Linked DNA regions of Homo sapiens: region 1 is linked to region 2. Evidence: fine-mapped expression QTL. Tissue or cell type: whole blood. Region 2 holds a variant in brackets; the other region holds the start of a gene. All regions are shown on one strand. Distances are from middle to middle.

The links. PIP is the estimated chance that this variant, and not a neighbour inherited with it, causes the effect.
Region 1: it holds the start of CD2BP2, and the variant in region 2 is fine-mapped to the expression of CD2BP2 in whole blood (TOPMed, PIP above 0.99).

Annotation. Positions count from the first base shown.
Region 1 is chr16:30,353,840-30,356,440 of GRCh38, forward strand. It overlaps CD2BP2 (CD2 cytoplasmic tail binding protein 2), which reads right to left and starts at 1,469. Exons shown (of 7, transcript NM_006110.3): 1 at 1,373-1,469; 2 at 765-868; 3 at 345-483; 4 at 62-219. The coding sequence starts at 842. CD2BP2-DT (CD2BP2 divergent transcript) reads left to right here and starts at 1,595. Exons shown (of 2, transcript NR_184233.1): 1 at 1,595-1,781; 2 at 2,454-2,601. RefSeq lists enhancers at 483-1,434, 519-1,718, 1,409-1,703, 1,435-2,386, 1,441-1,500 and 1 more.
Region 2 is chr16:30,060,932-30,063,683 of GRCh38, forward strand. All of the region lies in intron 4 of LOC112694756 (uncharaterized LOC112694756), which reads left to right. Among named protein-coding and RNA genes, the nearest start is that of ALDOA, 3.5 kb to the right of the region's middle. The variant AAAAC/A (reference allele first, on the strand shown) is at 1,274.

The DNA.
Region 1 (2,601 bases), 290 kb after region 2:
CGGGAGCAGGCCCAGCATCTGCCACTCCCAGGCCCCAGCCACGCCAGCCCCTGGGCCGCACCCAGTCAATGTTGTCCAGCCAGCTGTCTCGGATCTGAGCATCCCGGTTCAGGAAGTAGTTGCCATCGGCATCAAAGTGGCCTTCCTCCATCTCCTCCTGCAGGTTAAAGGGTGTGATCCGAACACCCCCCTCGCTGGGGAGTGTGGCTGCCTCCTGACCTGCACCAAAGACACAGGTGCCCTTTTCCAGGCATGGAAAAAAGAGACCGGAGCCTCCCTCGCTCCACACCACCAGAGGCCCCTACTTGTTTTTCCAGCAGAGTGTATTCTTGGGTACAGCTTACCTTCTACATCCTCTGAGGCCAAGATGTCATATTTGCTGGACCCCCCATCATCATCATCCTCCTCCTCATCGCTATCCAAAGAGTGTTTGCCTTTAAAGCGGCTCCCAGGACCCCCTGACCCAGCCACAGGGTCCACCAGCTGTGAGCAGGAGCCAGAAAGTTGAGAAATGCAGGTTACTGGCTACCTCCCCAAATACTTCCGGATCTGGACCCAAATATTCCCCAAATATTTCAGGATCTCGACTACTTCCCCAAATATTTCAGGAGCCACACTAAAGACGCTCCCAACCCATTCCTCAGAGAACCTGAAAAAACTAGGCTTTTCTCTGCCTGCCCGCCCCGCCCCTCTCCCGCCAGCTTTCTTCCTCTTCAGGCTTCTAGCTCCTCTTTCCCCCACACAAAGCAGTCTGGCCCCCTCACCTTCTTCTTGGGGACAATGATTTCATCCTCATCCTCCTCATCTCCCACGCCTTGGAAGGTCACTTTCCTCTTTGGCATGACGGGGCAAAGAGGTGTTTCTCAAGCTGAGGAAAGGATGCAGAGGAAGGGAACCGGGTGAGGAGGGGACTCGCCAACAGACGCAGCACAGCAAACATTTTTCCTGGTCTGTGACAGGTACAGTTTGGGAGCGGAGGGAGCACAAAAGCAGGGGCCGAAAGGAAGCTGGCAGCCAGGAGGCCTCCAGGACTTGGGTCTAGCATCCGCGAGTTAAACGGGGCGGGGACGGAGGAGCGGACCCTCTGGATCCCCCGACCCTGGCTGAAAGGAGACAGGCTTCACCACGTGACCGCCCCCAACTCCAGCCCCCGCAGTCTGCGCGCCACCGGCTCCACGGGCTGACCCCCGCTCTCTACCCTGGCTCTCTCGGAGCTCGCCGGGCCCCGGCAGACCCAGGACCTGGCGCTCTCGCCACCCCGTTCCTCCCTGCTCCGAACTCCCAATTCCGTGTGGTGAGCCCCAACTGTCCCGGGCTGTGTACAACTTAGAGGGCCACGGGGATTCGGGCGGTCCCACCCTCGCGCACTCACCTGGGAATCCGCGGAAGGCGAGGTGGAAAAAAGAAGAGATGCTTGCGCCAGGGCTACATCCGGGGCACCCGGCCGCCATCACCCGGAAGAGGACTGCGGAAGGCGCCCGGGAAGCCCGGAAGTGGCTTCACTCGGGTTAGGGAACTAACTGGAAGAGCGGGCGGAAGTATGCGATAAGCGAGCGAAGACGCCTCCACCCTCTCTCCCGCCAGAAGTGACGTCAGTCACGTGGGAGGACAATGGTGAGAAGAGGGAACCTAAGAATTCCTGGACTCTGACTGGGCGTGAGAAATGGCCGGAAGTAGCTTCGAGTCCGTCATTCAAGCAGTAGAGGCTCTGGAGAAAAACTGGAGCGCATCTGCTTAAAGGGCCGCCCAGGGTCAGGATGGAGGGGCAAAGTCCGAGCAGGGTCAGTGGGTTGCTGCTCCGTTTTCCTGTCCTGGGTTCAAGTCACCCTTCCCCCAGGGCTAAGGGCTCAGCGCCCCTACCGTCTCGTTAGAAATCCTGCCTTCCCATTCCTATGGTCCAGTGGTCAGCCCTCCTAGCCTGAGAGGTGCAGCCTTGCCTCTCCGAGGGGAAGCCTGACTCTCCCGATGGCCAGCCTGGGGCCCCTGGACGGCTCTCCGGGCACTTTCTGAACACACCTCCCTTTAGGACCCAGGGGAAATAATTTGTCCCACGCCCATACCCTGGGCGAGTTCCTGGTTTCTGAGGTGGGAGAGCCATCACTGGAGAGGTGGCATTGGCGCCAGTACTCAGGCCAGAAGCCCCTTGTGCCCTGCTCTCAGGTAGGCCTGGAAAAGGGCAACAGTGCCTCTCTGCAGCATGAAGCCCCCCTGAGCAAACAGGGCCTAGCAACTCCTGCCCAGGTAGCGGAATGTGGCCCAAGCAGAAGGGGGAATTGGGGAGGTAGCGGGGATCAGCCCCTGTGCTGGGACCCCTAGCTCTTGACACTCGGAGCCTGCATCCCCCTAAGCCAAGACTGTGCGCAGGCAGCACGTGCTGAAGCCAGACGAGGACAGCATGAGAGTTCCCCTACTCTTCCCCCAGGCAACTAGATGGGCCACTTCTCTCTCCCTAGGGGTTTCCTCCCATATTGGATCACGATGAAAACTGCACAGAAAGTCCGTGCTCAGTTTCTTCCATGGTTACAGAACACAGGCCCCAGACCAGGAAGGCATTCTGCTAAAGAAGGGGACCCGAAACCTCAGCTACCAGCGCCGATGGTT
Region 2 (2,752 bases):
TGATCTCACCAGCCATCTGACACCACACCCTGAAACCTCAGCTGTTGGAAAGGTCATTCCCCTATTCCTGGCTTGGCCAAGTTTCTGATTGAACTGTACAACTGTGACTGTCACTACCTCTGCCTCTGGCCTCAAGGAGCCAATCTTCTGTCACACAGCCATCCTGGGCCACTTCAGCCATTTGGCCTGACTCCAGCCCATGCCTAAGGCAGTTGCGGGTCATCCCTGTCCCAGGGGAGGACAGCAGTGCACTGGATAGACCAGTTCTCCCTTCTTGTCTCTAAGGACACGCTGCTCCTATTCCCCAAAGAGACAGACATTGTTTCCTCCAGGAGCTGAGAAGCCCTCTTCTTTCTTCTTTGCCTAAAGAAGGCAAATGATATGCTTAGATTCATCCATTCATTCAGCATTCATTTATATCTCAGACACCTGCTGAGCATGAGTCCAGTGCTAGCTCAGTGGAGAATATGGGATGAGCTGCCCCTGCCCTGGCAGACCCAGAGAGAGGCTGATGCTCCTGGCACTGGGAGGCAGAGGGCTCAAGAGGGATTGCAGGCAGGACTGTACATCCCAGCTCCATTCCCATCACTTGCCTCTCTGTCTATGCCTCCATTTCCTTTTTTTTTTTTTTTTTTTTTTTTTTTTTGAGGCAGAGTCTTGTTCTGTTGCCCAGGCTGGAGTGCAGTGGGTCGATCTCGGCTTACTGCAACCTCTGCCTCCCAGGCTCAAGCGATTCTCCTGCTTCAGGCTTCTGAGTAGCTAGGATTACAGGTGCACCCCACCACGCCCAGCTAATTTTTGTGTTTTTAGTAGAGAAGAGGTTTCGCCATGTTGGCCCAGCTGGTCCTGAATTCCTGACCTTAAGTGATCCGCCCACCTTGGCCTCCCAAGTTGTTGGGATTACAGGCATGAGCCACCATGTCTAACCATCCATTTTCTCTTTTGTAAAGAAGCCCATTACTCAGGATTCTGGTAATTAAAAAATATAAGGCTGGGCGCGGTGGCTCACACCTGTAATCCCAGCACTTTGGGAGGCCGAGGTGGGCGGATCACCTGAGGTCAGGAGTTCGAGACCAGCCTGACTAACATGGTGAAACCCTGTCTCTACTAAAAATACAAAAATTAGCTGGGTGTAGTGGCGGGCGCCTGTAATCCCAGCTACTCAGGAGGCTGAGACAGGAGAATCACTTGAACCCGGGAGGCAGAGGTTGCCCCAAGCTGAGATCCCACCATTGCACTCCAGCCTGGGTGACAGAGCAAGACTCCGTTTGAA[AAAAC/A]AAACAAACAAATAGATCTAATTCTTTTGAAAACATTAAAATTGATTGGGCGCAGTGGCGCATGCCTGTAATCCCAGCACTTTGGGAGACCAAGGTGGGTTTAGCCCAGGAGTTTGAGACTAGCCTGGGCAACATGATGAAACCCTGTCTCTACAAAAAAATACAAAAAATGAATTAGCCAGGCGTGGTGGCACGTGCCTGTAATCCCAGCTACTTGGGAGGCTGAGGCAGGAGAATCGCTTGAACCCAGGAGGCGGAGGTTGCAGTGAGCCGAGACCGCGCCATGGCACTCCAGCCTGGCAACAGAGCGAGACTCCGTCTCAAAAAAAAAAAAAAAAAAGTACAAAAAATGAGCCGAGCACGGTGGTTCATGCCTGTAATCCCAGCACTTTGGGAGGCCAAGGCGGGCAGATACCTGAGGTCAGGAATTCAAGACCAGCCTGGTCAACATAGCGAAACCCTGTCTCTACTAAAAATACAAAATTAGCCAAGTGTGGTGGCACATGCCTGTAATCCCACCTACTTGGGAGGCTGAGGCAGGAGAACCGCTTGAATCCAGAGGTGGAAGTTGCAGTGAGTGGAGATCACGCCATTGTGCTCCAGCCTGGGCAACAGGAGTGAAACTCCATCTCGGAAAAAAAAAAAAAAAAATGGCCGGGCACAGTTGCTCACTCCTTTAATCTTAGCACTTTGGGAGGCTGAGGCAGGTGGATCATCTGAGGCCAGGAGTTCCGAGACCAGCCTGACCAACATGGTGAAACCCCCATCTCTACTACAAATACAAAAATTAGCTGGGTGTGGTGGCTCACGCCTGTAGTTCAGCTACTCAGAAGGCTGAGGCAGAACTACTTGAACCCAGGAGGTGGAGGTTGCAGTGAGCCAAGATCGCACCATTGCACTCCACCCTGGGCAACAGAGTGAGACCCTGTCTCAAAAAAAAAAAAAAAATTAAAAATAGGTAAATTGCCATTTTCAAAGATACCTGTAAAGATTTTTAAAATCATTCATGAATGCGGTCTGTTCGTTGCACAGAGTAGATGCTCAAAAATGGTGAATGAGACCCTCTATTTTGGTCTCATGCTGAAGAAGTCCATAAAGCCCACAAGTCATTTTCATGATGGACAGAAAAATGTGTGTGCTTTCTCTGTCTACTGCCTCAACTGCACAGACCCCGGGACTGTAGCAGAACCATCTTTTGAGCTTGACACCGGGAGGCCCAAATTCTAGCACGGGACCCAGGGCCAGTTGCTCTCTGGTCCTCAGTCTCCTCACCCATAAAATGGGAAGGAGAGAACCCTGAATCATTGCTTCTAGCTTCTGAACTCAGTTGTTCAGAACAAGGACTCACTGCTGATTTTTCAACAGCACAGGGAATTGCACTGTTCCTGGGAATGATGGACAGTACCCTCTGTTCCACTGGGCAAGTGAGATTTCCCAGGCCTCTCTGTTCCCTTCTCCCCTTAGAGAGCAACAGA